Linked DNA regions of Homo sapiens. The protein of the gene in region 1 purifies or fractionates together with the protein of each later gene. This does not show direct contact. Each region holds a gene or a part of one and is shown on either strand. Other genes may lie near its edges. The genes, in order: TDRD7 and CDK17.

What was found.
Region 2: the proteins of TDRD7 (region 1) and CDK17 purify together in Homo sapiens (affinity purification with mass spectrometry; 3 studies listed by BioGRID and IntAct, with this or other methods). This does not show direct contact.

What each region holds. Positions count from the first base shown.
Region 1 is NC_000009.12:97,402,313-97,419,593, reverse strand, and holds the start of TDRD7 (tudor domain-containing protein 7), read right to left. Parts: upstream 7,499-17,281; 5' UTR 7,356-7,498; intron 6,834-7,355; exon of another isoform or gene 6,750-6,833; intron 1-6,749. UniProt on the Homo sapiens protein: Component of specific cytoplasmic RNA granules involved in post-transcriptional regulation of specific genes: probably acts by binding to specific mRNAs and regulating their translation.
Region 2 is NC_000012.12:96,288,431-96,305,048, forward strand, and holds part of CDK17 (cyclin-dependent kinase 17), read right to left. Parts: intron 11,931-16,618; coding exon 11,874-11,930; intron 10,554-11,873; coding exon 10,439-10,553; intron 9,292-10,438; coding exon 9,197-9,291; intron 8,903-9,196; coding exon 8,840-8,902; intron 6,693-8,839; coding exon 6,569-6,692; intron 858-6,568; coding exon 737-857; intron 1-736. UniProt on the Homo sapiens protein: May play a role in terminally differentiated neurons. Has a Ser/Thr-phosphorylating activity for histone H1.

The DNA.
Region 1 (17,281 bases):
CTCTGAAGTCCACACTCTGAATGAATGCCAGGGAGCAGGAAAGAGGACAGCTTTGGGACCTATACTTCACGGTTGCCAGATGTCAATGCTGAAGTATGAATTTTGGGTCCTGAATAGTAAACTGATGACACGGAAAATAGTTTAACAATGGTTCATGACTCATGAGTCAAAGATCACTGAACTACTATACAGTTATTTCCACAAGTAGTAAAAGCAACAGTGGAGACTGGCCAAGTTTTAATTTGCAAGAGGACATACTAAAGCATCACTTGCTTACTCCTCAGTGCCAATCCACCCTGACTATCCATTTCTGATCTCCACCTTCCCCATCTATGTGCTCTTCTTCCCTTCAAAACCCAATCCCTCCCATCAGTTCATCTAGAGCTCTTCTGAGTGAAACTGGGCTTTGCATCTTTGTATATCCGTATGCCTAAGTGGGCCTTGGCTATCAGCTACATACGCATTACATATAGATATAATGTCAGGTGGTTAGCACACATCCAGGGAAAATATCCATCTGGGTGTGACCAGTGTAAACGACTCAAATTAGACTGTTCAATATATCTGACTCCTCCCTGGCCAGACTACTTTATATTCCCCTGCCAGAGTTTCAGTAAGAAGGCCTTACCCTTTGCCTTAAGAATAGAGTTTCCATGGTATTCTCCTTCCCTTCATTTTGGAAAGAGCATCTGCTCCACTGCCACCTCCCCTCTGTGGTCTACTTTTCTCAGCTACATTAGGAGTGGACAGCAACCATTAATTTATGGGGAAAAAATGTCGGATAAATGCATTTTACTAATGGGTGTCCTGTTACTAAAACCTAACAGAACACTGTGATTCAGGTTTGAAAGGACAGGTCCAGCCCTGTCTTAGAGTCTAATCAGAGGCTTGTTCTACAGGTTGCCCTCTGCGAAAGCCTTCCACTCCTTCCACCCTTGGGAGAACCATTTTAGACCACTGCCCCTGAAATGTCCCTTCTATCTTCCTTATTTCTGCTCTGAAACAGCTGCAAGCAGGGATCTCCCAAAAAGGGCACTTCACAATTTTTTTTTTTAAGGAGCGGCATTCAGGTAGAGTCTTCCTCTTGTCCCCACCCATGACCTGTTTAACGGCCAGAGCAGAGTGAGGTACGAAGCTTTGCCTAATGCTTGCTTCTCTAGTCCCACCCTCTTTAAATGTGTCTTCTCCTTTATATAGCAGATGTCTCGTGACCTCCATCCTAATTGTTCTATCCTTTGCCCCGAGACTCTTGGAAGAAAATTAAATAAAATACCAGTGTGAATCTGCACGGCACAGAAGTGCTCATCCTTATTTTTCACTTTTCCCACCCTATCCAACCTCACATTTACCCACCTTGATTTCTTGGCATTGTCAGACTGTTTTTTCTAAGTTATATTTCTCAATCTGACCTGAGAAAAGCTTATGCCACACACATACTTCCTACTTTCACTCCCCCTTTATTTTTCCCCCAGATAGAGTCTTGCTCTGTCACCCAGGCTGGAGGGCAGTGGCGTGATCTCCGCTCACTGCAACCTCTGCCTCCTAGGTTGAAGCAATTCTCCTGCCTCAGCCTCTTGAATAGCTGGGATTCCAGGCACCCATCACCATGCCTGGCTACTTTTTGTATTTTTAGTAGGGACGGGGTTTCACCATGTTGGCCAGGCTGGTCTTGAACTCCTGACCTCACGATCCACCTGCCTTGGCCTCCCAAAGTGCTGGGATTACAGGTGTGAGCCACCGTGCCTGGCCTTTCACCCCCTTTTTAATGCACATATTATCACAGTTAAAATCTACTTTAAAATATTTCAATAGTAAAGTTGCTAACACCTGGCCATTGATATATTTTGATTTGGTTTTGGGGGAAGGGCAGGGGATTGCAGAAGATTATGCCTGAGCCTCCTTTTACTTGTGTTCCGCAAGTTTAATGCCACTGCTCACTCATTTTCCTGGGATAAGCCCCTTCTCCTGGATCTCATTCTCTTTATCTGTAAGATGAGTGAGGTCAGTATTAGTTCTCAATCCTCCCCCAAGCAATGTGATACATAAAGATGGAAGGCGGATGTCTACAATTCCTTCACTCTTCACCACTTCCATGGCAGTTGTCCTAGTCCGTGTCAGCAACATCTCTTTCCTGGAGCAGAGCAGCTGGGCTCTTAGCTGGTCTCTCTGCTTCCACTTCACCTCCTAGAATCTGTTCTCCACATATCAGCCTGAGTGATCTTTTCATATAATATATACTATTATATCACGTCACTCAAAACCCTCTAATGCTTCCTGTGTTAACTCAGACAAAAAGCCAAGTCCTTACAGAGCCAAAAAGGGCCCTGCATAACCTGCAACCCCCACTTCTTTGCCCTAAGTTCTCTCTTCTCTTTATTTTCATTCACCCATCCTGGGCTCCATGCTTTTCCTTGAACATGCCTGAGATGGCCTCACAACAGGGCTTTTGTACTTGCCATTCTCTCTACCTGGGACATATTGACTCCAGGGGCACATGTGGCTCACAGCCTTACCTCCTTCAGCTAAAGTACGTGCTCAACTGTCACCTCCACAGTAAGGCCTTCTCTGGCCACCCTATTCAAAATCAAAACTGAGATGCCAGCTTCCCTGATTTTCTCCTTAGCACTTATCACCATCCAATATTCTTCTCCATTTAATGGTTTTATCTTTCTCCCCAACTTCAATGCAAGCTCCATGAAAGCAAGGATTTGTGTCTGTTTTGTTCATTGCTGAATCCCTAGTGCCTAGCCCACCGAGAGCTCAATAAATATTTGTTGAATGAATAAGAAATTCTCCATCCACCTACCACTCCTTTTCTCTCCTACTCACTAAAATACAGCATAACATAGGTGAGCTATTAAAGGCATAACTCTGAATCCAATTTAAGTTACTAAAAAATTATCTGCAAATGTTAACAATTCTTATAAACTGAATGAGACAGCCAATCGCAACACCAAACTGTGGTTGAGAATCATCAAGTAGATTATTTCTGAGCATGTCCACTCTGAGCCAGATTAGGCCCTGTCAGGGCCGCAGCATGATTGCAAGGAGCCCACACATCCTGACAAGCAGCAGGCACGGCTTGAATATTAGTAAATGTCTCACATGTACTTATAGTCCTGTTTTTCAGAGTGTGCAGATATTATTGGGATCCATAAACACAAACTGATATTAAATTCACAACAGCTTTTGGTAGTTATATGTTTAATTGACCAATGGATACTGCAAGCACAACTACTAGTGTATGAGGTTTCACGAAATTTTTCTAAAGCTACAAAAAATGGCCTCATACTTGAGGAGACTGAGAATCAACGCTTGACCACATGGTTGCAATCTGTAAATTAAGTTCCCTCCCCCTGCCTGCCTTTTTAAAGTATGCTATCTTTCATGGAGGACTATAACTCTCTATTTGCAAACAACTTTTTGAAGGGAAGGGGAATCCCTTGGAGTATAAGACTGTGGGTCTCCAAGCTGGTGAGAAGCAGTTAAATGCAGTAAAACCTGGAAGGCTAAATGTGATTGTATTCAAATGCACGACTTGCCAGTCTGATTTCAATTCCCACATTAGCAACATCACTTCAGGCAGTGAACGAAAAAGAAAGTGTAAGCTTTAAAAAAAATCGTCATTATTTTCTAAACTATATCACTTTGGAAATGCTCTGAGTTTTGTTACGTGGCTCATGATGACTTTTTTTTGAAACTTTCGGAAGATGGCAATTATACTCTCAAGGTATATAAGAATACTTTGTTCTAACTATAAAAATAAAGTTTAATATCTTAGACATCATCCATTAGAAGCATAAAAGAAAGTATATCATAGGAATTTCAACTGGAGTGCAGTGGCGCAATCTTGGCTCACTGCAACCTCCGCCTGCCGGGTTCAAGTGATTCTCCCGCCTCAGCCTCCTGAGTAGCTGAGACTATCTTTTTTATGCTTTCGTGCTTTCCTTTTTTTCTTCGCTTATACCCAGTTAATCTTAATTATCCAAGACACTAATAATGCACATGAGGTGGGGTGGGGAGTTGGGGAGTGATGACAATCTTTAGGGAAACAAAATTTAAATAATTTAAGTGGCCTAAAATAATTCTCACTCTACTTCAAAACTGCATTTTGTAAATTCACAGCTTTTCTCTTTACTATACCTGAAAATGGCCCAAGGAAGTCCTATTCTGAAGAACCTGGTTTTGGTGTATCCCAGATAAACGCCTTCTACCATTGATTGATCCTCCCTGGCTCAGTCATTTGCATGTTATCTGCTTCCTCTAACTACTGGTGTCAAAGGCCTTTAGCTGAGCTAGTCTGGCTTCCATCCTATGCCTTCTCTTTTCTAAGTTTCTTCTTGCTCAACTATTTCCAACTGTATGATTTGGCTCATCTTCCTTACTACATTTTTCATGTCATCAGTTTAAGTTGTCGAGTGGCACTAAATCTTAAAACAAATCAGAAGAATTATTAGGGTAAACTGAAAACACCAAGTAATCTCTCTTAGCTTCTTTTAGTTAGATGTTCAATTTTGAAGTATCTGGATATCTCTTTAGGGCATATACTTCTAATAACTAACTGCCCTTCTCCTTGAAGACACTATTTTAGCAACAGCGGGAACTTAAAGTCCCATAATGTCTGTGCTGACACATTTTAGGCATCGTCTAGGCTAACCCAAGCTCCTTATCTTACAAATCAATAAACTGAGCCTCAGAGGGAAAATTTTTTCCTAAGATCTTTACCCAATAAATGATTTCTCACCTTGCGACACTTTTAAATGCTCTTTTCTTTCTAATCATAGTCTGTTACCACTTCAATTACTCCTTCACCAACCGGTTTTTAAAGGAAAAAGATGATTAATACCCTCAGATGATGGTATACTTCCTTAAGAGTTTTTTTCAGGGAGTTATCTTTTTTATTCTTGTGATCTCAAGTTCCAAATTATTCGTGCATTTTAACTGCATACCACGAATGTACGTAAGTAAGGGATTTCCATAAGTCTACATACTAGACGAAAAAACCCTGAGATAATAAAGTGGCTTAGTAAGGAGTTTGTGTCTTAATCCTAGTTCCGCTACTGATTACCTGTGACAAGTCACTTCAGGTCTCTTTTTTTCACAAGGAAGATAAGAAAGGTGGGCAAGAGCCATGATTCTCAACTTTCCTTGGATTCACTGAAGGCTGAAATAAGGTCCAAATATGTAATGAAAACCGAGTTTGCTTACTCATGACAAAGCTGCACAGGCTAAAATGCCAAGCTTACTTTGAAGTCACACTGGGTAGCTTGCACTGATCAAGTTCTGATTGGCATATATACATGTCTTCAACTAAAAATTGCAAAATTAATTACTTTTAGTTTGAAAGACAAAACTGTAAACATATTTGGCTTACAGGGAAATAATGACAAGAATGAAGCTTTCAAAAGTACAGAGGTGGGAGTGGAGGGAGGAAAAAGCAGGTTTGGCACAAAGAAACAACAGTTCACGTAAATATAAAATTTCACCAAGGAACTTCTGTGAAAGTGTCCAGATGCAAAGCACTCTATGTCAAATCTCAATTCTTGAAAACAGCACTTGACAAACACAAATTAGGCACTCGGGGTTGGATTATATTTTTTCTTTATATTCACATTAAGTATCCAGCTAGATTATATTGCACAGAGAACTTAAAAGAGGGGTTCTGCAAGGAGTTTAAAATCTCTTGATGCACAATACAATAGTTCATTCAGCCATGTTCAACCTGTACACTTAAAAGGGCATTAGCAGGGGATTACACTTCATTTTCAATCTACAGAGACTGAAATCTGAAGGCACTGCCAACTGCTGCCTCACAGTCTCACCGTGCAACTACCAAAGACGGAGGCTGTGTGCCACCAAAGGGCCCTGGATTGGGGCACAGGAGATGTGAGTGCTAATCCAGCTGGCCCCAGGGGCAATTCCCTATACCCAGAACAGTACTTTGCACGTAACTGATGCTCAATGAATGTCAGCTGAGAGGAAATGCAAAAATATCCACCATGTGCCCATTTATATTATATAGTAAACACAAAGATCTTTGTGTCCCTGCCCTCAAAAAACTAAAATCCAATTATGTAAAACATGGACCGTTTGTTGGGAGGAAGAGAGTGAATACTGCTTGGCAATTATTATGAGGCAAAGGATATACAGTGGTTATCTTGGAAAAGCCTTGCAAAGTAAGCCAGGTACCTCTATTTGACACATAGAAAACCAGGCTAAGAGAAAGCATGTAATTTGTTCAAGATCACACAATTTGTAAAATGAGAAGCCCAGATTTCAATCCAGGTCTGCAAAGTTCACATTATTTGCAGTATGCAACACATTCATACACATCAAGGCAGCCCAGGACGAGACAGGGATTTGGGTCCAAGTTTTACTTCTGCTATTAAGCTGTTGCCTATCTCTCTAGAGAGAACATTTCTCTGCATTTTTTTCACCGGCACGATTGGAGAGCAGAGAGGTGTTGGTAGGAGGGTTAATGAACTAGATCTGTGGTTTTTTGGTTTGGTTTGGTTTGGATGGGCGGTGATCAGAATTCTTCTGGGCCAGGACTTGTTCTAATGTGGTTGTTTCCCTTCCCTGCTCTTAGAAATTATTTGAGAATGGTACCTTTAGCTATTAATGGAAATATACCTCTCAAGTGAATGGGAGCAGAAAGATATGCCGGCTCCAAGCTCCCTCCTAGCAAGCTGAAGCTGAGAGTCTGACCCTGCTGAGGGGATGCTACTGAAAGTTGAGAGACAACTTACTCACGGATCCATGTTTCCCTCCCAGCTGGGTGCTCTGTACCCACTGGGTGCTCCTCGTTTGAGAGAAATGGGGATGTGTGTCCTGCATTACTTAAGCGGCCTGCCTGGGGCTCGTCTCCAGATTATAGAGACCTTCAAGAGAAGTTCGTGGTGTAAAATACTTGGGTTCAAATAGGGGAGCGCGGACATCCCTCGCTGGGGGCGGCGGCTGCGGCCTGTCGCGCCGGTAGCGGGAACCACTTCCTGGTCCGCATCTCCCGCCCGCGTCCACACCCCGCTGCTGCATTTCCCCCACGGCGCAGAGCTTCCGAGGCGGCAGGAGGCTCCGTCCGACTCCCGCGTGAACGCCCGGCCCGGAGCAGGGTCCCTTCAGAGATTTAAAACACAACGCTCTGGAACTCCAACTCCCCCGGCGCCCAGCCCGGTTCCCAGGCGTCGGGGCGGGGGCAATCCCCTGCGGCTGCAGGGAAAAGGCCCCGAGCCTGTTGGAGCCCCCGGCCCTGGCCGCGGTCCCACCGGTGACCCAGGTGCGCCGCGCCCGCCCGAAATCTCGTCCGACGTCGCCCGGCACCTGTCGCGCCCGGAGCCCGCAGGACCTGCACTCACCTCGTTCCGGGGGCCCACGGCCCGTCCCCGCGTCTCTGGGCCCAGCTCCTGCCGCCGTCTCCGCCAGGGGCCCCGCCGCGGCCGCCGCCCACTTTCGGTTTCCCCGCACCACCGGAGCCGCCCCGCGGCTTGGGAATCACCTCAAGCCCCCGCCCCGCCCTGCTCGGCCCCGCCCCGCTTCGCCCCGCCCCGCTTCGAGGGCAGCCTGGCCTCGGCTCTGCGCACGCGCGGGCGCTCCGGCCGCGTCGGCCCACGCCGGCGTCCGCGCGTGGGAAGGGAAACCGTCGCCACCTAGCGGTTTCTGCGCGTGCCCACGCACCGGCCGGCGGCGGAAGACGCCTGCGGGGCGGGTGCGGGAGCGCCTCCTGGTGGACAACGCAGGTACGCGCGGGCCGAGCGAGCCGGGACTCAGCAGGGGGCGAGGGTGGCTCCTTCTATGGGGCTCACCCTCCTTCCAAACAGTTCAACTCCTGCACATTATTTTCTTCAACATCTGGAGCAGTTACTTTTTATTGCCCTAGACACACACTCTGTCCGCCCATATCCTTCAGGCCTTTCTCAAGCATTACCCTTTCAATGACGGTGGACACAGTCTCTAACATGTCAACCTCCTTCCTTGACTTTCCCTATCCCCATTCTCAACCTTATTTCTCCTTAGCACCTATCTAGCACACTATATGTATTTTACTTATGCTTTTATTGTCTGCTATCCTTCTAAAATTAAAGCTCTGTGAGCACAAGGATTTTTGTTTGGTTCCTTAACCTATTCCCAGAGCCTAGGATAGTGCCTAGCACACGATCAGCAATAAATATCTGTCAAATTTATTCATTCACTCTAAAGTTATTGAACACCTAATAAGTGAATACTTATTTATTCTGCACATTAATTCCACCAACACTTATTGGCACCTGCTTTGCATCCCTGCAGCCAACATTGAACACTTCTCTGCACCATTGGATATGCATTTACTGAGAACCTGCTGCTTATTCAACCGGTATTTTATTACAGCTTGACTGCCATGTATAAGACATACAATAAACTGAACGTTTAAAATGTACAGCTTGATAAATTATGCATTTACTGAGAACCTGCTGCTTATTCAACCGGTATTTTATTACAGCTTGACTGCCATGTATAAGACATACAATAAACTGAACGTTTAAAATGTACAGCTTGATAAATTATGCATTTACTGAGAACCTGCTGCTTATTCAACCGGTATTTTATTACAGCTTGACTGCCATGTATAAGACATACAATAAACTGAATGTTTAAAATGTACAGTTTGATAAGTTTTGATATATATATATCACTGTGAGACCATCACTGCAATCAAAATCATGAACATATCCATCACCCAAAAAAGTTTTACTGTGATCCTTTGTAATTCTTATATCTTGTCCCTCCCTGTCACTTGCCCCCTCAACTGCTCACCTGCTTTCTGTTGCTATAGATTATTTTGCTTTTTCTAGAGTTATATGTAAAACTTTTATGTATGGAATCGTATGTACTATCCTTTGGGGGGCTGCCTGGCTTCTTTTATTTAGCAAATTATGTTCATCCATGTTGTTACATGTATCAATAGTTCATGTCTTTCTATTGCTGAATGGTATTGTAGGGATGTACCAAACCTACCACGCAACCCAGCAATTCTGCTCCTGGGTATTTACCCAGGAGAAATGAAAGCAGATGTCCACACAAAAACCTGTACAAGAGTGCTCATGGCAGTTGTGTTGGCCGTAGCCCCACATGGAAAGAATACAAACATCCGTCAGAAGGTGAATGGACAATCAACTAATATATATTGAACACCTGCTGTTAAATAACAAATTTTCATGGATAAGCCTGTGCTTATAGAGCTTTTGATTCAGTGAAAAGATGCAGTAGGCAATACAAAGAAAAATTGGAAGTAAATCTGGAAAACCTGATATCCAGCTCTCAGACACTTGGATGTTTCCCCAAAGGCGGTAGGGAATTGTTCAGAGTTTTTGAACAGGGCTTTTCTTTGAACACTGTTCTCTTTCATATCCTAGATCTGGTCCCTGACTAAGTTTGCCTAAATGTCTCTCTCTGGAATTTCTCTGCATCTCCTTTGCTCTATTTCAGTCTATTTCAGATGTCTTTCTGTTCTTTCCCTTCCAGTCTACTCCAAACATTGCAGTGGATTTTTAATAGACTTTGCTATGGTCTGAATGTTTGTGTCCCTACAAAATTCATGTTGAAACCTAATCCCCATTCTTGCGGTGTTGAGAGGTGGGACCTTTGAGAAGTCATGATGGCTTCGTCCTTGTGAATAGAATTAGTGCCCTTAGGGGCTTAAGGGAGCCTTCTGCCCCTTCCACTGTGTAAGGATTCAGCAAGAAGGTGCCATCTTTGAAGAGGAGAGCAAGTCCTCACAGGATGCCAAATCTGCTGGCACCTTGATCTTAGACTTCCAAACCTCCAGAACTGTAAGAAAAAAATTTCTATTATTTATAAATTATCCAGTCTAAGATATTTTGTTATAGCAGCAGGAATGGACCAAGACAGACCTAAAAGACAACCAGCCCCAATTTGGTCTCTGCAGTACTCACAACATCCTGTGGCTCCACATTTTAGAAGGGAAAGATGTAAAAAGCAGCTGCCAAAGGAAAGAGTGCTAGTAGTAGCAGGAAATAAAAAAAAATTTCAGAGTCTAATATGTAGAATAAATCATAAAATAATGTGAGTTGAACCCAAGTTTGAGATCCTTTATCCTTGCAAAGATGTTCCATGTTTAGACTGCCCTATATGTAAAGAAAAATGAAGCTCTGCAGCTAGTTTTTTTTAAACCAGCTTTTTTGATAGTTGACATATAATACATATTTAAATGTACAGTGTGATGAGTTTTGACCAACGTCTTTAATTGTGTACCTACCACCACAATCAACATATGGGATTAGTTCATAATTCCAAAACTTCTCCTGTGCCCCTTTACAGTTAATTCTCTCCCCATACCTTTATCCACTAGCAGCTACTGATCTGATTTTTGTCATCATAGGTTTGCCTTTTCTAGCATATCATATAAGTGGAATCATGCAGGATGTCATCTTTTGTGTCTGGCTTCATCACTTAGCATGATGGTTTTGAAAGTCATCCATGTTGTTGCACATAGTGGTAGTCGGTTCCTTTTTAGTGCTGAATAGTAAGCCATTGCATGGCTTTATCACAATTTGTTTATTCATTCACATTTCATGCACATTTGTGTTGTTTCCAGTTTGGGCTGTTATAAATAAAGCTGTAATAACAGCCATATGCAGGTCTTTGTGTGGTGATGTGGTTTTTTGGCATAAAGACTTAAGTATAGAACATCTGGTTGTGGGATAGGTGTACGCTTAACGTTTTAAGAAACCGTCAAACTGTTTTCTAATGTGGCTGTGCCATTTTGTACTCCCACTTTTACTCTCTCCTTGGTAATGTGTAAGACTTCCAGTTGCTCTAAATCTTCTCCAATACTTGGTATTGCCTGTCTTTCTAATTTTAGCCATTCCAGTGGATGTATAGGGATAGCACACCGAGGTGTCAATTTGCATTTCCCCAGGACTAATGATGTTGAGCATCTCTTCATGTGTTTATTGGCCCTTCATATGTGTTCTTGGGTAAAGTGTCTGTTCTGCAGGTAGATTTTTGTCCAAGACATCAGGAGGTTCTCAGAATTGCCTGGGTATCTGACAGAGCAAGGGCAGATTAGAACGTTGTTTTTTTTGTTTGTTTGTCTTTGTGAAGTGGTCCAAGACCCAGGGAGTTCAAGAATTCACCCCCATACCCTGGATATAATTGGATTTCAGGAGAATTAAGAGATATCAGAGATGGAACAGACTGGTTACTCCGTAGGCACAATGGTTCTTACCCTTTTGTGGCGAAGTCAGAATAGATGAAAGCAAATTTTGATGTATGATTTCAGAGAGGATATAGAGTCCTTAAAGCTCCACTGTGAACCCACGTTAAAAATTTCCTTAGAGGAAAGCATATATCCTGGGGCCAAATAGCAGAGTTTTTGAAATGAACAGGACTCAGATGGAAGGCATTCTTCCTCTGCAAATGCCCAAGCATATCTTTGGACAACAAGGGCAGTGGCCAGGAGCATCTAGATCTCTTTTAAGAGAGGCAGGCATAATTTCCCATCCTCAAGGGCTGTAGAGAGGTCCTTGGTACTCTGCTTAATGTGGTTTTTAGGGTAGGAAAGGTAGATGGAAGGGGAAATTAGTAAAAGCTGGCCACTAAGCAGAAGGCTGGCAGGTCATTGTGCCTGTCCAGAGACAAGAGAGAGGTTATCGTGGGAAGGGAGTGCAAATCAAGGCCCAAGTATGGGGAAGGAAGACAGCTTTGTTGGTAGCTTATCCTTGGCAGAGAAAGATGGACATATTTCCAGTGTGAAACCTCCATCCAAAGCCCTTCATGCATTTTGTCCACACCTGAGGAGCCTATATATTTGGAGAGAGTCACATTGGATACAAACACCAAAATGCCTGTACAAAGCAGGCAGGACCAATACTATTGGTTGAGTTGAATCTCTGTCCTTCCTCTTTTTCATCTCTCATCAGCAAGCACCATTTAGAATGAGGGTGAGACAGCAAGCATGGTCCAGGAACATGTCTGTAGTTCATTTTTTTTTTTCTTATCTGATAGTTCTTTTGGTCTTAGCAATATAGCCCAAGAACAATACATTCCTCATCCTTTCTCTAAGAGCCTGTCAGACTTTACAACCACCATAGGCAGCTTTGTCACTTGCAAAATTTAGAGCAACAACTTGATAGACCTCTAGGTGCTGTCATCTCACTTCCCTTCCTCTCTATATTGACTCCTAAAAGAAAGCAAAAACCAAAAACAAAACTTTCATTTCTATCAGTTTATGACCCATCAAATGAACAGCGGGGACTTGGTAATAACATTATTCAATGTCTGGAGTAGTTCCTCTCTCAGGAAGCCTTCCTCGAATCCCCCACCTGACAATCATTGTTCCTTTAGCTGAGCTTCTAGACTGCTTTGTTCCTTAAATATATTTATAGCAGAGAGAACATAACAAGTGATTTTATATCTCATCTCCCTTGTGAACAACTTGAAAAGAGTTTACATTTTATTCATCTTTGGTTGCTGAGTTATTTGATTGCAAATAATTTTAACAATACCCCTATTTGAAACTAAACTACAGCATGTTTGAAATTATGTATACAGATGGAACCCAGCCACATGAGTACTTTTTGCTTACATAAGGTCAGGAAAAATAGATCCACGACAAAAGGAATCTTTGGACAGATCTACTTTTGGTTAATCATTAACACCATAATCACTGCCTCTCCCATCAGCTTTAATTGCCTCATGAACAAATGCAGAGGAATTTCTAGACAACTGCATTTGTTTCAACTGAGTAAGGAGAAAAGACAAAACAAAACAAAACAAAAAACAAAAGGCAGAGATTGCCGGAGCCCTGCTAAAATCCAGGCCCCGGTAAAGCTAAGGATGTGCTGATCAAGCAAAACCCCCTAATCTGCCCACAAAGCCCTCCAAGGTGAGTCAGCTGAAAGGGCCTAATCCCCAGAAGGGACTGATCACTAAAGCTTTAGAGGCCACACAGCCACAGCACACTGGAAAACAGGGGATAATGAAAGCTTAAAGGGATATTGTGTAGAGAAAGGTCATAGAACCAACAGAGGAGGGTCTTGGCTGTCTAAGAGGTCACCTTTGCCCTCTCCTGACTTGTAGTTCATTCATATAGCTCAGTCTTAGGACCCCAAAATAAGAATGATTCCAAGGATGTGGATATCGTTAAGAGTTAGCTGGCTTAGGGCCCCCGCTGTGGGGTGGGGTGTGGAGGTGAGGTAACTAATATTTTAAGCAAGGCAATCAACCACAATATGACTGATTTTGTAATAGTCAATAAACCAGATGGCACAAGAATTATACTGCAATAGCTGCTAGTGGTGAGGAATTGGGGAGGCAGTGAGGAGAAACTACATGGGTGCAGAGGAGGTGCTCAGTATAGGTGAGCTGACACTGAAAGAAGCAGACAGTATTCGAGAAGTGTGGGCTCCGATTAGAAGTGTACTATACAGGAAGAATCACTACCCGTTAGTTGCTTGCCCTGGATCATTTAGGACTTGACCTTTCGTTAAATTGGGAGGTTGCATAGAACTCCAGAGCCCTTTGGCTCTGGTTCTAGCCTTGGATTCCCTTATGTGGCAAAGTGAACACAGAAAGTAGTGAAAGAGGCTTCTCTTGGGGCTGTTTGGTCAATTTCTATTCATCAGTGGTTATCTATGGGAAATAACCACTCCCCATAGATACTCAACCACTCTTGAGACAGTGGGCTCTGCCCCAGTCCAAGCCCCCTGCCCCCAAGCCTGGGGCACGTTGTTTTGTACTTTTATGAGGTTATTTTTGGTTGTCAAAAAGATCAGGTGCACCTCCTGGCATTGAGTGGGTGGGGCTGGGATGCTTGTGGTACTTCCCCCATATCAGAGAAGTTCCCCTTGTCTCAACCAACATGTGGATGTCATGCCAGTCATCTATGTAGATGACAGACCTCTGCCTTATATATAAACACAAATAATTTTCCCCACAGTTTTACTATACAGTGAATTTTCCAATGCTATTTTTATCTGTGAATTTCACTTTAGGAAAGTAAATGAAGGGATTACAAAATATTTGTCATAAAACGGGGGTGCCAGGTCAGATAATACTGCTACTCGAAATCCCCCAACAGCCAACTCCACCCAGAGAGAAGCTGAGCAGGATATTCTTGTTTACACCAGTAGACATAGGGATACACAAATTTATCTTTACTAGATAAAATTACCTCACTTGCCCTAGTGCTCAGACCAGTTGAGGAAGTTAGAATCATTCTTTTTGGGGGTCTTTCTGGAGTTTACTTAGCCCCAAATTGTATTTCCCCTACCATAGGTACAAGAGATAGTCTTCTTCATCTTCCTCCCAATTCTCCCTCATCGCCTCACACAGTCTTTTTCATTTAAAACTGGACTCCTCACTCTCAGCAGCAACTTCCTTAAGACTGGATTTTTATATTTATAATTAGAAAAGTATAGCACCTGGGGGCTAGCAGTTGGCTAAGGAGGGCTAGCAAGCTGCTGGCTGGAGTAAGACAGTGCAGGAGATTTCCTCTAACGATGTGGTTCTTAATCTGAGAGTGATATGGTGTGTCAGCACTAACATGGTATTTTCCTTCCTTTGTACACTACAGGTTGAACTATAAGCTCACTTGTAAATATCACGGTAATTATGGGAGCTTTATTTACAAAGCTGTGTGTGTGTGTGTGTGTGTGTGTGTGTGTGTGTGTATGTGTGCATCCTTAGGAGTGGCGGCCCACATTCCTGGTGTGACTTGCTAGAGCTAGGGTAAGCAATAAGGACTTTGTCCTTCAAATATTAGGTTTTGTGTTCTGAGTGCTGATTTCTGCTTTTGATTTTTCAGGGGCCAGCACAGAGGCTGACAGCCATTGTTTCAACCTCCATGAGCTGAACCTCCAGGAAGCAGCTTCCTGGGGATTTAAAGAGACAATACTTGTGCTCCCACCCCCATGTCTTTTGGGAACCAGACATTTAAGGAAATCTTTGTCGGGTCACTGGTTGATTACAGAAATGATGGAACAGAAACTTTAGTGACCACAAACAACAATATATATCTTGCAAAAATAGTTTTAAAAAGTCATAAATAGATGACCCAGTCCTCATAAAGTACAAGAAATCTCTGAGGTATTGAAGAATTAGATATCCAGTTAGTGCAACATGGTATTTAAAATTTCTAGCTCTCAACAAACAATTACAAAACATACAAAAAAAGAGGAAAACATGGTCCATTCACAGAAAAAAAGAAGTTTACAGAAATCTTTTCTAAGAAAGACCAGACATTGGAATTATTAGTCAATGGCATTAAGTCAACTGCCTTAAATATGTTTAATGAGATAAGGAAAACCATAAACCAAGAACTAAAAGGAATCAGTAGAATTATATATGAACAAAGAAAGAATATCAATTAATAAATAGAAATAAAAAAGAACTAAACTGAAATTCTGGAGGTGAAAACTGTAATAACTGAAATGAAAAATTAACTAGAGGCATTCAACAGCAGGTTTGAGCAAGTGGAAAAAAGTGTCTATGAACTTGAAGACGGGGCAATTGAAATTATCCAGTCTGGGGAGCACAAAGACAAAAGAATAAGTAAAAGTGAACAGAGGCTAAGGGCCCTGTAGGACACCATCAAGTGAATCAAATTTACAATATGAGAGTTTCAGAAAGAGTAGAGAGAGTTGGGAAAGAAAGAACATCTGACGAAATAATGACTGGCAAATGTCCCAAATTCGATGAAAGAAATGAATCTACAGATCCGAGAAACTCAACAAACCTCCAAGGATAAACTCAACAAACTCCTAGGATAAACTCAAAGAGCTTCACCCCAAGACATATTATAATCAAAGTGTCAAAAGTCAGAGACAAAGAGAATCTTGAAAACAGAAAAAGAGAAATGATTAGTCACACACAAGGACTCCTCAATAAGATTAAGAGCTGCTTTCTCATCAGAAACCATGGAGACCAGCAGGCAGTGGAATGAAAAAGTGCTGAAAGAAAAAACTCAAGGAAGAATTCTCTCTCTGGCAAAACTATCTTTCAAAAATGAAGGATAAATTAAGACATTCACAGATAAAATCTGAGAACATTCACTGCCAGTAGACCTGCTCTCACAAGAAATGCTAATGGGAGTCCTTGGGGGCTGAAATGAGAGGACACTGGACAGCAAATTGAAGCCATATGAAGAAATAAAGATCTCTAGTAAAGATAACTGCATAGATTAATATAAAAACAGTATTGTTGCATTTTTGGTTTGTAACTATTTCCTATGCAGTTCAAAAGACAAATACATGAAAAGTAATTATAAATCTTTTAACAGGCATACATGTAAAATGTGTAATTTATGGCCAGGCACAGTGGCTCATGCCTGTAATCCCAGCCCTTTGGGAGGCCAAGGTTGAGCGACCACTTGAAGCCAAGAATTCAAGATCAGCCTGTGCAATGTAGAGAGACCCCATATCTAAAAAAAAAAAAAAAATTAAATTAAAAAAAAATAGCCAGGCATAGTGGCACATGCCTGTAGTCTCAGCTACTCAGGAGGCTGAGGTGTGAGGATTGCTTGAGCCCAGGAGTTTGAGGGTGCAGTGATCTATGATCACACCACTGCACTCCAGCCTGGGTGAACAGGCAAGACCCTGTCTCAAGGGAAAAAAAGATATTAATTGTGATAACAGCAACATAAAGGTAGGAGGGGATGAACCGTATAGGAGCAGAATTTTTGTGTGCTGTTGAAGCTAAGTTGGTATTAATTCAAACTAGACTGTTATAAATTTAGGATGCTACAGTGGACAGAATGTTTATTTTTTTTTTTTGTAGAGACAAGGTCTTATTATGTTGCTTAGGCTGGTCTCAAACCCCTGACCTCAAGCAATCCTCCCACCTCAGCCTCCTAAAGTGTTAGGATTACAGATGTGCGCCACCAGGCCTGGCTTGAAGTTATTTTTATCAAGATCAATTTTTTATGTAAATGACTTGATATTTTGGGGATCCACATCATAATTTACTGACTGTAGATTCTGCTATTGTAAGCTTTCTTTAGGGATTATTATTCCTACCAAGTCAATTTTCCTTGGTCAAATTATGCATATCAAAATGTTAAATATACTTTTCTTCCATCAATTTTCAGTCAATGATAAATTTTACCACGTGCAGTTTTAACCATTATCAGTTTTTGCTATAGACTGTTTGTGTCCCCCCAGATTCCTGTTTTGAAACCTGTCCCCCAGTATGATGGTATTTGGAGGTTTGACCTTTGGGAGGTGATAAGGTTGTGAGGGTAGAGCCCTCATGAATGGCATCAGTGCCCTTACAAAACAAGCCACAG
Region 2 (16,618 bases), on another chromosome or scaffold:
TGGGCATTCCAGATGGGTGGACTGGTATGAACACCAAGAGCAAAGGTAGGAAAGTCCACATTATTCCTGAGATATAGTGAGTATGCCATTTTGCTAAAAGGGAACATTTGTGTTGAGAAACAGTCTGAAATAAGTTGGAAAAGGTAGTTTAGAGACATCTTATGGAAATCCTTAAGTATCAGATTGAGGAATTAATTGTACCTTATTCTATAGGTAATGAAGGGGGTGGCAATAACGGTGTCTGAGTAGAAGAGTGTCAGGATCGAAGCGGTGTGTGAGAAAGATGACTACAATATTTTGATTATTACTTTTAGTTCAAGTTAAAGCAGAAAGATTTTGGTGAATATTAAATGATGATAAAATGATAATTTTGTTTTAAATTACTATGTATCAGATACTCTTGAGTGTCTCATAAAGCACTCTTCTGAGTGTTCATTTAATCTTAACATCACCTACAACACTTCAAAGTAGTTATTGTTACTATTCCCATTTCCTTAAATGAGGAAACTGAGGCAAAGGCCAGTAATTTGAATAAAGTTAACACATAGTTCTAAATGGCAGAATTGGTATTTAAACCTAGGTAATCTAATTCCCATGCCAGAACTCATTAATCACTGTTACATTATGGCTCTTTAAAATAATATCTCCTTAAAAGTATATACTTATCAATACATCTTGCATTAACAGTTACATTCTTTCAAAATTATAAATGTCAGTGACATCTGTATATATTTACCACATGTCAATCTGTGTTGAGTACTCCGAGGAACCAAGAAGCACATCAGGTGGCCGGTACCATAGTGTGACAACTTCATTTGAGTAGGTCTTTGTGGGAACTGACTTGGCTCGGGCTAGTCCTTCATAGGGAAAATAAAACAAAGGGTTAAGAAAAAGCTTTAATGGATCTCTCAGACCCTATTCTCACCATGACTCCATTCAAAGGGATGCCTGAAATGGTTAATTCGTAGCTTCTTGAGGCTTCACCACTATTAACTTTATGAATTCGTTGAGTGCATGTGGCCCTAAGTAAGCAAATCCTTACATAGTTGAACTAAACAAGAATTCCACAACCAGAGACTGTGCTTACTTTTATGTTTGAATACACCTGGTGAAGTATTCTGGGTGAATCTAAACTTAAGATGTTTTCCTTCTGTCCATGAATCATGATGACAAAATTATTTCTCAGCTGCAATTAAATTAATCCATAATAGGCCAATGACATTGAGATACACAATTTTACTTCTAACGGCTATGAGCTTTTGTCACCTTTTAACCTGATTCCAACTTTCATTTGCTATACCATTTTTTATCAAAAACTGTAAAGTTATTGGTCCATAATCTCATTGAGATTTACTGACAAATCGACTTAGAGACAATTTCCTTGGAATAAAATTACAGTGCTGTTCTGTACTCCCTTTTTAGGTTGTAAGTTACATGGATCATTCTGGAGTAAGACAGACTTCATTGTCCTTGGATATTATTAATTGCTGTTTACGTCAGGGGTGTCCAATCTTTTAGCTTCCCTGGGCTACAATGGAAGAACTGTCTTAAGCCACACATAAAATACACTAACACTAACAACAGCCATGACCTTTAAAAAAAAAAATCGCAAAAAAATCTCATAATGTTTTAAGAAAGTTTACGAATTTGTGTTGGGCTGCATTCAAAGCCATCCTGGGCCATATATGGCCCATGGGCCATGGGTTGGACAAGCTTGCTGTAAGTGATATAAAACATTTGCCATTCCTTTGCTAATTTAATATGGAATCTATTGATAATCCAGAAATAAAGGCTAGAGTTTACAACTTTATCTCTTGAGTCACTAGTGTGAGAGAGTCGCTATTACCTCGAAGCCTCTAAATTATGATCTGAAGAAGCAACTTTAAAAAATATCTGGAAAATTACAAATTTATTTTGCCAAAACAAGGAAGAATTTATTTTTTAGGCTGAGATTGCTGTTATATATAACTTGGTATATCTGATTAAAATATTAAAGAAAAATGTCACAAAAGAAAAAATCAATTTTACTGAATAAGGTTACAGAAACAATGTCAGAAATTTAATTAGGCAGGACTCATATACTATTTCAGTTCAGTATAATGGTGAAAGGTTATAACTGGAACAATGTTGACATTCCTTCATTTAATTACAAGTTTTACTCTAGCATCTCAACTTGGTGAAGTAAGTCCAACAAATTATTTTCATACCAATTTTGGTAATTAATTAACAAGATGGAGGTAGCTTTCTGACCTCTCTTCTTGATATTAAAAGTGGGTTATAGGAAGGCAAAGGACAGGGCTGCAAACGTGCTTATCCTGTAACATACCATATCAAGGCAAATTACCAGTTATAGTTTCCTCAGTATCCTACTCTCCCACTCCTGAGAGGATTCCGAACTATGGTGTTTGTGTACATGGCCTTCTAGTTCACAATTAGAATTTCAATACTGGTTGGAATGAAATGAAACAATCTCTCCTAAACAAAATTAATTAAATGTGATATGGTATTATTATATAAGCCATTTTCTATCATTAGTGAAAATATCTGTCTATATCACTAGTTCCTAGACTTCTGATTTTCACTGATCGTGGGAAAAGGGTAGAATTTTCAGAGGGACAGAGAACAACTTATAGTATAAATACTCAAAGTTATATGACCCTCCTTCACAAGAAGTCATATTTACTATGCAACCAAAAAAAAAAAAAAAAAGGAAGAAATAGAGACAGAATTGAATATACTATCTCATGGAATAATCAGAATTTCTTGTTGCCTTGTGGGTAAAATTTGCCTGGCTTGCATTGTAGAGGTTGGAAGCAAAATTTAAAGCACTCAGAGTATTCCCTGATAAAAGTAGTTGTTGTTTTTTTCTTCCTCTTTTTGAGACAGGGTCTTGTTCTGTCAACCAGGCTAGAATGAAATGGCTTGATCATGACTCGCTGAAGCCTCAACCTCCCGGGCACAACTGATCCTACCATCTCAGCCTCCCAACTGGCTGGGACTAGAGGTGCACACCGCCACACCTGGCTAATTTTGAAATTTTTTATAGAGGCAGGTTTTTGCCATATTGCCCAGACTGGTCTTGAACTCCTGAGCTCAAGCAATCTGCCTGCTGGGCCTTCCAAAGTGCTGGGATTACAGGTGTCAGCAACCGCACCCAGCCAAAGGTAAATTTTTTATAGTCCTTGACATTCCTTTTGCTTTTTTTTTTTTTTTTTTTTGAGATGAAGTCTCGCTCTGTCATGCAGTGGCATGATCTTGGCTCACTGCAACCTCCGCCTCCCGGGTTCAAGCAATTCTCCTGCCTAAACTTCCCAAATAGCTGGGATTACAGGTGTCCGCCACAATGCCCAGCTAACTTTTCTATTTTGAGTAGAGACAGGGTTTCACCATGTTGGTCAGGCTGGTTTTGAACTCCTGACCTCATCTGATCCACCCGCCTTAGCATCCTGAAGTATTTCTCTTCACTGCCATTCATTTTGGGATTGGGAATAAAGAGCATTACATGCAGGTTAGCAAACAAAGAGAAGGAGAAGGAAAAAGAGTGAAAAGGAAATAGTGGCTGGGGGAAGGAAAGAGAAAGAAAAAAGAGAGAGAGAGTAACAATTATTATAAGGGAAATAACAACATAAACTATGCCCAAGAAGAGACTTTATGAAAGCATATGTAAATAGCATATAATTTGTTATTCAAACACAGGTAACCCACACATTTCCTTTTTAAGGAAGGAAATGCAAAAAGTAATTTACTCTTCAAATGGCAAAGTATTAAACGAGCAAAAGTATAGGAATTTCCAGAATAAACTCACCATTTAATGACAGTGAAGAGTAATACTTGAAACACTCATATTTATTAAATTTAATGAAATACTCCAAACATAAAACTACCATAATCAAAGCCAGGTGTGATGGCTCACACCTGTAATCCCAGCATTTTGGGAGGCCAAGGCAGGCAGATTGCTTGAGGCCAGGAGTTCGAGACCAGCCTGAACAACATGGTGAAACCCCATCTCTACTAAAAATACAAAAATTAGCTGGGCGTGGTGGGCACCCCTGTAATTGCAGCTATTTGGGAGGCTGAGGCACCAGAATCGCTTGAACCCAGAAGGCGAAGGTTGTAGTGAGCTGAGATTGCACCACTAGACTTCAGCCAGGGTGACAGAGCAAGACCCTGTCTCAAAACAAACAACCAAAAAACTACCATAATCATTTATGAAAAAAAATTATGAATTTAGTTATGGAAAACTGCATGGGTTTTTAAAAACTAAGTTCTCTAAGAGTATTCAAACTCTCAGAATGCGGAATACAAAAAATTCAAAGCTGCTCTACAAAGTTCCTTCAATATGAAAAAGTTTACTTTCTAGAAGCAAAAAGAGCATTTAATTTTACTTTCAATTCCCTTAAAACCAGATTAGCTAAAAAAAAAATAGATAAATAGCTACAATTAAATTACTGAGCATATAATAAATACAGAGTAATGGTGGCAGGTATATTAAGGGAACGCCTTTCAGTAGTTGCTTCTAAACTCATTGTTCTCAAGACCCATTTTATACTCTTGAAAATTATCAAAGACCTAAAGAGCTTTTATTTTTGTGGATATATTTACTGATATTTGCCACATTAGAAATTAAAACTTAGCAAATTTTAAAATATTATTTTCTCTTTAAAAACACCACCCTTTATATGCAGCATGTATGACATTTTTATGAAAAACATTTTTTTTATAAAAACAAAACAGTAAGAAGAATGGCCTTCTTTCACATTTTTGTAAATCTCTTTTAAGTCTTGTTTTTGTAGAGATGGGGTCTTGCTATGTTGCCCAGGCTGGTCTTAAACTCCCGGCTTCAAGTGATCCTCTCACCTCAGCCTCATAAGTGCTGGGATTACACCCCTGAGCCACTGTGTCTGGCCTAAAGTCTATTTCAATAGAAGACAACTGGATTCCACATCTGTTTTTGCATTCTGTGTGTCGTGATATGTTGCTTTGATACATATCACAATATGTATCAAAATAGATCAAATATACATATCACAACATACATATATGAAGGAAATCAAATCTCACACAGATATGAGGTTGAAAGAGGAGGGGCATTTTAATAGCCTTTTCTGATAAATGTGAATAGTCTTATTTGACACTACATCAGAACTAGAAAGTAAGTGGTCTCTTAAAAGCTATGTGTTAACAAAACCTATAACGATGAACTTCTCATGCTTTTGTTGCACTAAAATTCATTGACCTTGTACTTTAAATGGGTCTTTTATCCATGCATGATTCTGTAATATCATGCATTAGCCATTTGGAAAACAGTGGATCCCTGGGTTATACATTCCAAATGTTTATACACTTTTTCAGCATATTGAAAAATCGTGTTTGTTAACATCAACATCGATCTCATCAGAAAAGTCTCTAAGTATTGAAAAGCCATCAAACTCAAAGCAGATCCAAATTTCCAAACTCTAATTTTTGCTTGAAAACTTGAATTTTATTATTGGCAAGAAATACTGACAGTTCTTTTCCTTGAAATGATAGGCTTCCTTCATTCACTTTCAGGAAAATGTCTGCCAAACACCTAAGTCTGAATAACCACAGTTTGTCTGTCAGTCATTTAAGTAAAAATGGTGTCCCCTCAAATAACAGGGCTAGTTCAATGTGCACTCAAATAATCACATGAGCACTTTTCCCTGAGAAGTAACCACATTATTTCTGTGTGCAGCAAATGAGTTTTATGTACACTTCCCATTTTATCACATAAAATATTAAAAAGAAATGTAGTCAAGGATGGAAATTAAATATAATTAATAAATTTTATTGCTTCATCATGTAAGTGTAACTGACAGTTTTCCCTTTACGTAAGTGTAGTGGTAAAGAATACAATGACGGCCTGGGCATGGTGGCTCATGCCTGTAATCTCAGCACTTTGGGAGGCCGAGGCGAGTGGACCACCTGAGGTCAGGAGTTCGAGATCAGCCTGACCAACATGGTGGTCACGCTAAAAATACAAAATTAGCCAGGCATGGTGGCGCATGCCTGTAATCCCAGCTACTTGGGAGGCTGAGGCAGGAGAGTCACTTGAACCTGGGAGGCAGAGGTTGCAGTGAGTCAAGATCACACCACTGCACTCCAGCCTGGGCTTTAACAGCAAAATGCTGTCTTCAAAAAAAAAAAAAAAAAAAAAAAAAAAGATATATTTTGGTGCCACTACTTTGATGTATAGTTTTATGCATTATTATTTTGGGACCATCATTGCAAATATTAACACAGTGAAATAGGCAAATAACAGATGGTACAATTTTGGTAATATATTTACATTTAGAGGCCTCCTACAAGGGTCTCAGGAGCCCTAGGGGTCTTTGTCCACACCCAAGAACAGCCTGTGCATTTTAGAATTTGCTGCTAATAACCAACATAAATCACCAACCAAAGTTCTGTCAAATATCTTATTCTGTGGGCTACCGAGAAAATTTCCAAACCCACATAAAAGCAATGGCACATTATGACAGTGGTTGATCTTTTAACCATTACACTTTAGAACCTGGAAGTACTAATAAATATCTCATACATTCCATACCAAAATCTGCTAGCTTTAATTCTCCTTTCTCATTAATGAGGAGGTTCTGTGGTTTCAAGTCTCGATGCAATACCTTTCTTCTATGGCAATATGCCAAACCACGTAGAATTTGGTACAGAAACAGCTACAGAAACAAATAAATAAAAATTAGTCTTAAAGATGAGACATGCTTTAGTATAAGCATAAATGATGGTAAGCAGAAAAGCAGCTGGCCTAGAACATTGTAACAGGAAAAAGAAAGTAATTGCATACTTAAGTACAATGTCTTTTTCCTTTTATATATAGTGGCTTTCTGAATTTAATAGTTTATTATTCTATTTGAAGCATCTACCTATTTCTTTTAGTCTAACAGTATCTATGGAAATATTTTTTAAAAAGTAACTTCCTCCTAGCAGTAACAGTTGATTTACTGTGGAAAATGACTTAAAAAAAAAAACATATCCTCATAAACTTACAGGCCTACTAAGGTTTACATAGTTTAATTATAAAATTCTGGCAAAACAACCAACCAACCCCCCTCCCACCCATCTCTCCTTGAAAAAAAACAAAAACAAAAACTCTGATCTGGGGCAGTGTCTTTAAAATAAGGCACTGGAATTGGCGATTTTATGAAAAGTCTGAGGTATCAAAGAGAAAGCTGCTGCATAGCTCTGGCAAATTACTTACTATAAAACTAACCTAAACCAGCTTCTATCACCCATCTCTTGGGTACTTTACTTTCAGCACCTCCTACTTAGCCTTCAAAATCTACTGTGATTCACAAAGGGGCATTAGCACCGTAGTGTTCTGAATGACTCTGAAAAAAGTAATTCCTATAAGGCTAATGGTAGAGTTTTTGCTGTACATTTTGGTAGAAAGAGGGTTACGGAACACATAAGACCTTTGATTCTCTGGGGTTAACAAAAAGAACCTCAAGTACAGAGGATTCAAGAGTTTCCCCTCAGTTCATCTGTAGGTGAAAAACAGGGCATCCGAACACTGAGGCAGCCAAGGCAGCAGGTCAACGGTATGCCTGAATGAATTCTCTGTGCCAGAGTCTCTCCAGTCTACATAATTATGTTTTTAAAACTCTAAAATTACTATTTAAATGAATTCTTGTTACACTTTGTATTTTGAAAGTATAAAGGCCATTTAAACAAATAAATAATAAAACGCTTTCCAACTTAAGCTAATCATGTAAACCTGGCATTAAAGAAATAAACGTCTCAACATTTGTGAAATTATCATCAAGGACCTTGTTTTATTTTCAAATTATTGCCAATAAAAAAAGCAGGAAAAACAAAATTAAAACCAAAAAAATACAAAATGACAGTTATAACACTTTGCAAACAAAAGATGTAAAATAAGATGAAAACAACCCTGACAGAATATATATGGAAGTACATTTAAAGCCCTTTTTAAAAATCCTTAGCAATGTGTTATCCATATGTTCTGAGCTGTCTTTTAGTAACAGAAACTGGCTCTCCTTTATAACCACCAAACTTAATATTTTTTTAAAATGTAAGTTTAAAATTACTACCTACAGAATTAGAAATGTCTGAAGCACACAGCTGCGACAGCCTATTTTCAGAATAGGTTCTTACATATTGTTGACTAAGTTTGGATAAATAAATCTTTGCTAAATTTGGATACACTACTCAGGTCAAAGAAACCTACTGTAAGAATACAAACTATGCTGGATGCTGTTACTCAGTTAATAACTTTTGGGTATCATCTGGCACTGATTTTATGGCAAACATTTTTAGCATTAAATTTTTAAATATGTTGTTGTAAGAAAACACACCAATTATCTTACTCTTCTTCCTGACAGTACAGATTGGTATTTCCAGCATAGTGTTCATAAAACCTGCATGTTCTGGCCTTATTCATTAGTTCTGAAAAGTTGTTGTTTTACAATTAAATACCATTTATTTGGGGAGTTCACTATTTAAAGAAGGCCTTTCACAGAATGCACCCATCATTCGTGTTTATTTTGAATTTTTTTTTTAAAGCAGAATACACCTGTACATATATTCTATATTAGGACAATCAGTTGTAATGTGAAATGTCAAAAGAATGAAGTGGTTCTACAAAAAGGTCTGATCCTAAGAAAGCTATAGTGTAGTAAACAGAAGTTCTGGGTAAATATTGCACGTTCAGAGGACAATAACCTATTTAAAAGGCCAAACAGAAAACCCTGAAGAAGAGTTATGAGGCTGGTACATTTCATTATATAATGGTTCACCTATGCTTTAAACAAAATTTAAAAATTACACACGCAAGAAAACATACCTTTACGTTGTGCATACTCATGATGTTTCCACAGTCATCCATGTACTGTTTCAGGTCTTTATCCTGGAAAAACACAGCACTCTGCTATGTGATACACCATTTTCAGAATGTTGTGACTGGTTCACTTAATAGTGTTTTTCAAAATTAGTTGTTTTTCAAGAAAAGATACTGGATGCACCATACACATAATTTAATGAAAAACTGATAACTAAATAATAAAGTCTCTTGGGCTGTTAAAAAGTCCAATTTAGCTAAGCACAGCTGCAGTTTAAAGAAAAATAAAAAACAAACTAAAAGTCCAATTTACTATGTTTTTCTAAAGTAAAGTTAAATACTGAATTTTTATGAGATGCTTACCAGATACTCAAACACCAAAGTCAAGGATTTATCTGTGTGAACAATGTCATGTAAGGTTACTATATTTGCATGTTTTAAATCCTTTAATAGTGAAACTGCAAAACAGAAAAAGAAAATTGTTTAGTCTGTGGCAGTCTTTATAAAAACCTGAAGTAAGTTGAACATACGAACTGATTAAAAGATTCTCTTAAGTTTAGGTCTTGGGCGGTGGCTCACCCCTATAATCCCAGCACTTTTGAGAGACCGAGGCAGGCGGATCACTTGAGCCCAGGAGTTCAAGACCAGCCTGGGCAACAATGCTATTTAAAAAAAAAAAAAAAAGATTCTCTTAAGTTTAAAGCAATAATTTACCAAGGGGATTGGTTGTAAAAATGTTCATGGAGGCTGGGCACGGTGGCTCATGCCTGTAATCCCAGCACTTTGGAAGGCCAAGGCGGGCGGATCGTGAGGTCAGGAGATCGCCTGGCTAACATGGTGAAACCCCGTCTCTACTAAAAAATACAAAAAAAAGTTAGCCGGGCGTGATGGCGGACGCCTGTAGTTCCAGCTACTCGGGAGGCTAAGGCAGGAGAATGGCGTGAACCCAGGAGGCGGAGCTTGCAGTGAGCCAAGATCTCGCCACTGCACTCCAGCCTGGGCAACAGAGCCAGACTCCCTCTCAAAAAAAAAAAAAAGTTCATGGAAATCAATTTTTTCTTTTATACTACTGGGTTTGATATTATAATACTTAAAATTGTCCCCAATATTATAACATTCTCCATATCATCTTCTGTATTTTTCCTAAATGTTAACTTTTGAAACTTCTGGCATTAATTTAGATATAAATTACAAGGAACCATTTTTCCCCTCCACATTACTAATCAGTTGCCTCAAGCCATTTTCTGAATAATCTTCTTTATAAAATGGTACTATGATATAAATATGTTTACACACTGTTTTTTAATTTATTTAGTTTATCTGGTTAATTTATAGTTACCATGTTCCTCATGTACCAATGTATAACATTTCCCTATGACAAATAGTTGTCTATGATAGTGATTTTTAATGAATTCAGATTTCATTATAAGTTATACACTAATATAATTAATCCCTTTGAGTATTTGTTTTAGAAATTTGCTTTTTAAAGGTTTAATTACATCTTCCAGTCATTTATTACTTGTATATCTGAGCTCTTTTTACTTATAAAAAATAGACACTTATTCCACCACTTTGATTTTAAAATGTTCTGTATAATTATTATACCTTCTCTTATAGCTGTGCAGGGTGCACCTTCTTCATGTTCCAATCGGATCTCTTTTAATGCCACCAAATTCTCTGTCAATTTACTTCTTCCTTTATATACTGTTGCATATGTACCCTATAAAATATATTTTTAAAGGACGCATCAAAAGTATCATAAGAGTCTATTTAATACCATCTTATAATAAAGAGCTCTACCTGAATTTCTAGTTTCTAAGCATTGTTAAGTTCCATCTTGCAAAGAAAAACACACAATGATCAGCCATGGCTTTTCTTACAGTAAACAGGACTTTCAGTTCATATGCACAGCTTCCATACTTCTGTAACACTACAGAGTGCCTCAAGAGTATAAAAACATAGACAGAATATTTACTTTTTGTACCTTATTTTAGATTAACAATTAGATCAATAGCTTTAAAATCAAAGGTGCTTTACCTGCAATGGTATATGGAGACTGATGGACACTAATTGAACATATTAATTGAAAAATGAAAACATAATGTACATATTGTTAAATGATAAATTTTTTTTTTTTTTTTTTTTGAGATGGAGTTTCATTCTTTCGCCCAGGCTAGAGTGCAGTGGCACAATCTTGGCTTGCTGTAACCTCCACCTTCCGGTTCCAAGCGATTCTCCTGACTCAGCCTCCCGAGTAGCTGGGATTACAGGCGCCCGCCACCACGCCCAGCTAATTTTTGTGTTTTCAGTACAGACGGGGTTTCACCATGTTGGCCAGGCTGGTCTCGAACTCCTGACCTCGTGATTCACCCGCCTTGGCCTCCCAAAATGCTGGGATTACAGGCGTGAGCCACCGCGCCCGGCAATCATAAAAATTTTACCCATGTTTCTAGACTTTTCAGAATCTTTGTACATTAACTCTCCTTTAAAAAACAAGGATCTCTTCTATTATTGCCAGGACAGCCCTCAAGCTCCTTTAAGCCTTCCCTATTAACTATTGTTTTCTTTGCCCTTTCCTACTATAGGAGGTAGGCCATTTCTAAATCAGTAGTACTAGTAGTAAGTTCAAGAAAACCAAGATCTTAAGAATTTCCGTAACCTTCAAAAAATGTGTTTTTATCTTTATTCTGATTTTTCACAGGTCTGAACTCATGCAATTTCCCATGGTGGCACAGACAGTAGACTGGCAGTAGACTAAGTGACAAATGCCTACTTTGTTATTAAGAAAACATAATACTTTCTGCTTCAATAAAAATTTCAAAGCTATAAAAAAAATTCATTTCCTCTCAAACTGATGGGATAATTTCAAGAATTGAAGACTCTAACTCCTAGAAACTCTGTTACCTTTCCAGAACAAGTATATAATCTTGTAGACATCAGTACTTACGTTTTTTCCAGGTTAACAAAAACCGTGGAGTAACAGAGTTTGAATGACGAATAAGAAAAAAATGTGTCTTACATTTTTGAGATATTTACTTACCTCTCCAAGCTTTTCCAATTTGATGTAGGTTTCCATTTTTCCAAAGCCAATTTCTGACTGAAAAGTAAACAATGAAAAATGTAGTATTTACTTTTTTTTTTTTTTTTTGAGACAGCATCGTCTCACTCTGTTGCCCAGGCTGGAGTGCAGCGGCACAATCTTGGCTTACTGCAACCTCCACCTCGCGGGTTCAAGTGATTCTCCTGCCTCAGCCTCCGGAGCAGCTGGGATTACAGGCACGCAGCACCAAGCCCGGCAAATTTTTGCATTTTTAGCAGAGACAGGGTTTCAACACATTGGCCAGGCTGTTCTCGAACTCCTGACCTCAAGTGATCTGCCTGCCTTGGCCTTCCAAAGTGCTGGGATTACAGGCGTAAGCCACCGCGCCCAGCCTTGTATATATTCTTAAAGTTTCAATTCATCTCTTCCTCAACTTCTGAAACTTTCCCACTCTAAAGAATGACTAAGAATAGAAAAATCTGATTATAATCAAATGGTTGAATATCTATCAAGTTTTAAAATAAACCCAATGTTGGAACATTCAAAGGTTCAAAAATATCAAAGTTCACAATCAAAATTGTCAACCCAACCTTTATATATACACAGTTAACATTCTGTCATGAAAAATATTTGGTTTTATTCTAAGATACCACAGGCATTTTAAGATACTAAAGAATCTTATCAAGGATAACTACTTGGGATTTTCTTTTTAACAAAATTGCAAAATAAATAATTTTCCTATGTATTTTCTCCCTCACCAATCTGAATTCCCAAGGAAGTCCTGCAAACAACAAAATACTATTTGTTTCAGGCTTTCCAATCAAAATACAATGAAAAAGACAACTGAAAATCATGCTCTTCTATGGATCAGGAAGTGGCAAACATAGAAGCAGCAATGTAAGTCTAATTCTGGCTACACCCCCCCTCAACACTCGGCCAAAAAAAAAAAAAAAAAACAAACAAACCCACAACAACAAGAGAAAATGCTTTAAAAGTGAGTTCTTAAAAGCCTTGCTTTTAAAACTTGAGCTCGCCTGACTATTGTGTATGGAGATGATAAACAGGGTACATGAAATATACCTAAATATGTAATACAAACACAATATTTAAAATGAAAAAGAAAAAACCTTAACACAAAATTTAGGAAAATTTGTTTTTAGATAGATTGAAAACTAGGGACTGAGAGAGCAGAAATATTTTAAAAAGTAAAACAGAATGGGAAAAGAATTTTCTTAAAGTTGCTTTCTAGTACCCCTTTATAGATAATGGAAAAGGTAATGATAATCTAAAGAAAGATCCACTTGCTTAGAATGGTGCTAATGCCCTTAAATAAAAAGCCAGTTAAAGGAAATAATGTTTTTTAATACATAATCTCAGTTCTCAAAGGTGTATAAATTATGCCAGATGATTAAACGTTGTGATTTAGTCAAACTCTAGAGGTCTAAATACGCAATTTTCCTTGGAACTGTGGAATAAAATTAAAATAATCCTTGGTAATTAGACTTGCATCACTTACCATTTCAGACAATAGGATAAATTATCCAAAGCTGAATGGCCAAAAGTAGCAGAGGCCCCTCAAAATAACTGTTTTTATCTTTTTGTTACAATGATATGTATCATATTAAAAGCCATGTGGAAAACTGCACGTCCAATAGTACTTAATTCAATTTTAGTAAACTAATTAAAACTTTGGTCACAGGTATTATTGAATGAATGAAAAATTATTTTTGCATTCTATGACATTTTCCTATGACGTTTTTCATAAAACATTAAATTTTAAAAATGAAGTTTTACGACCATCATACACTATTCATCCATGTATTGTCTTGAACATGACTCAGTATTAAGTCCTTCGCTTTCTAGTATCAATAACTATGCAAAATAAAGAAGTAAAACTACAATAGATAACATTTTTAAAATACAAGTGAAGTTTTTAAAATCAGTATGAAAAACATGGCAAATAGCCCACTATCTGGTACATGACAGTCTGATTACGAATAATCTTTTAATTTATATATGTTTTATATAGCCTATTTATATATGATCTTAAATACTTTACTCCATAAAAAAGGCTACTTGCCAAGATCACAGAAACTAATAAAATATCTTTATTCTGATACTTATCTCTGGAATTTAGGTGCTTAAATTCATGAATATGGAACTACCGCATTTTTGCCATGAATTTTAAGTTTTGTGTCATCTTTTATGGGGGAAAAAACACTATATTGAGAATAAATGCAAACTAGTATGAACAAAAGAATGAATGTTCCTGAAAAAAATATTTAAAATGTCATTATAACAATGAGAAGCACACGGGAAATAAGACTGTAAGCTAGGCATTTTTTCTTCTCAGGAGTAGAGAAATTTTCTTATTAATCCTTTTATCTTAAATGAATGAATACTACTATGTTCTTAAAACATCAAATACACTAGGGTCCAATGGTTACTATGACAAAATGTCGAGGTTTGCTTTAAAGACTATGTAAATGGACTACAAATTAGACTGTAAAGACAAATATGTAAGAGGTTAAGTTTAAATTTGAATAATCAGTCTATAAAATAAACAACACTACTGAATTCCACCCATGCAGGCAGGCAGGCAGGCAGAGAATTCAGACAAAGGCACAATTACACTAGTGAATTGTCTGTCAGATCCTAATTCAAAAAGTAAAAGCTTAGCCCCCAATTTAGTAATTTCCAACTTAGGATTTAATGATTACATCAAAACAGTACTTACTGAATCTTTAAATAAAATTTTTAGAAAATTTTGCTTGCATTTTTATTTGCTGAACACAACAAGATTAACAATAGATATAATGACTAGCTTGTTGACGTGCTCTCCTACAGAAATTATTCAGAGGACAGAGGACAAAGCTCATTTATTCAACATTTACCCAGCACAATGTTAGGTGCTAGAGAAGACAGACATGATTCCCACTTTCATGAGTTCACAATCTAGCCTGAGTTCCATCCTAGATTATTTTAGAATATTTTAAAAGTTTCACAGAAACAGAAATAATAGCTAAAGAAATAGCACAATAAGCTTTATAATGTGTATGTTGTTGTTCCAGTCTCTGCAGAAACTCAAAAATTGCCAATGCCAACTATAATCACAAGTTGTCATGGTGGGGGTATTTGGGAAAAATTTTCAATTAGCAATAACTGTGCCTTGGATAAACCTCGGGTATGATACTATCACTGCTCAAAGCTTATATTTTCATGTAATATAAGAGCCCCCTTAATGCTGCTTTCCAGACAAATGAAGATAATTTTTTCTGATATTTCACTGTTCCAAGAAAATACTTCACTTTTTGACAGCCCCAAGCAAATTCCTATTCAGATGGCTCTTAGAGTATAAACACATGAAAATTCTAAATATATATATAAATTAAATTATAATTTATAATAGTCTTCCTAGAATTCACTGTAACTTGTAAGCAATACCAAGCCTTATGGGAAACTTTTTGTTTACTTTGGATCTAGCAACATAATTACTCTATCACAGGCTGGAGATGCTGTTCTAGCTGAGCTTCAAAACAAATGAAGCACCAGAGGTCCCCCTTATCCACAGGGGATACTTCTAAGAACACCAGTGGATGCCTGAAACAGCAGACAGCACTGAAACCTGTATGTACTAGGTTTTTCCCTATACATATTAAATACACTCCTAAGATAAAGTTTAATTTATAAATTTTGCAGAGTAAGAGATCAACTAATAAAACAAATAACCATAATAATACACTGTAATAAAAGTTACGTGAATGCAGTCTCTATCTCTTGCTCTCAAAATAATCATACTGGCATTGTATTCACCTATCCTCAGACTATGTTTGACCTCACATAACTGAAATTGTGGAAAATGAAACCACAGATAAAGGGGGAAGCTTCTGTATGTACAGAGGATCCATAGATGACATTTTAAGAGTGAGTATATATTAATACATAAGAAACGGGGCCGGGCACGGTGGCTCATGCCTGTAATCCCAGCACTTTCGGAGGCCGAGAAGGGCGGATCATGAGGTCAGGAGATCAAGACCATCCTGGCCAACATAGTGAAACCCTGTCTCTACTAAAAATACAAAAATTAGCTGGGTGTGGTGGTGCATACCTATAATCCCAGCTACTCGGGAGGCTGAGGCAGAAGAATCGCTTGAACCCAGGAGGCGGAGATTGCAGTGAGCCAAGATCGTGCCACTGCACTCCAGCCTGGCGACAGAGCAAGACTCTGTCTCAAAAAACAACAAAAAAGAAACAGCAGGGGAAGAGGGAGGCTTTTTCAAACATTCATTTCCCTCTCTGTGGGAATTACCGAGTTACTGTTAACGAAAGAAATGTGTTTTATCCCTTAGACTTGGTGGGCAGGGGGAAAGACTGAGAATCTCTATTCTACTCAGTCACTTTGTCTTACAAAAATTGCTATTATCATCACCACAATACCACCTTAATCCTGTACTCCTGTACATAATATGCTAAAGGTAAATTCTGTGGGACTTTGAACCTCACTCCCACATTCCATCTTATATTTCTAATTGCTGAGAGATGTAAGGACTTGATTGTATTTTCTCACCTGCTCTGAGAATTAAGAAAGGTCTATATAGTCTATTGGTAAAACCAGGAATGAAGAATCCAAACATTCATTGTTTAGGAAGGCATATGCTCTTAAAATGTATAAACCTATAATTTGAATACAATAAGACAAATTTTTATATATGGATGACCTCCATTATAATTGAAGCTGCACTCAG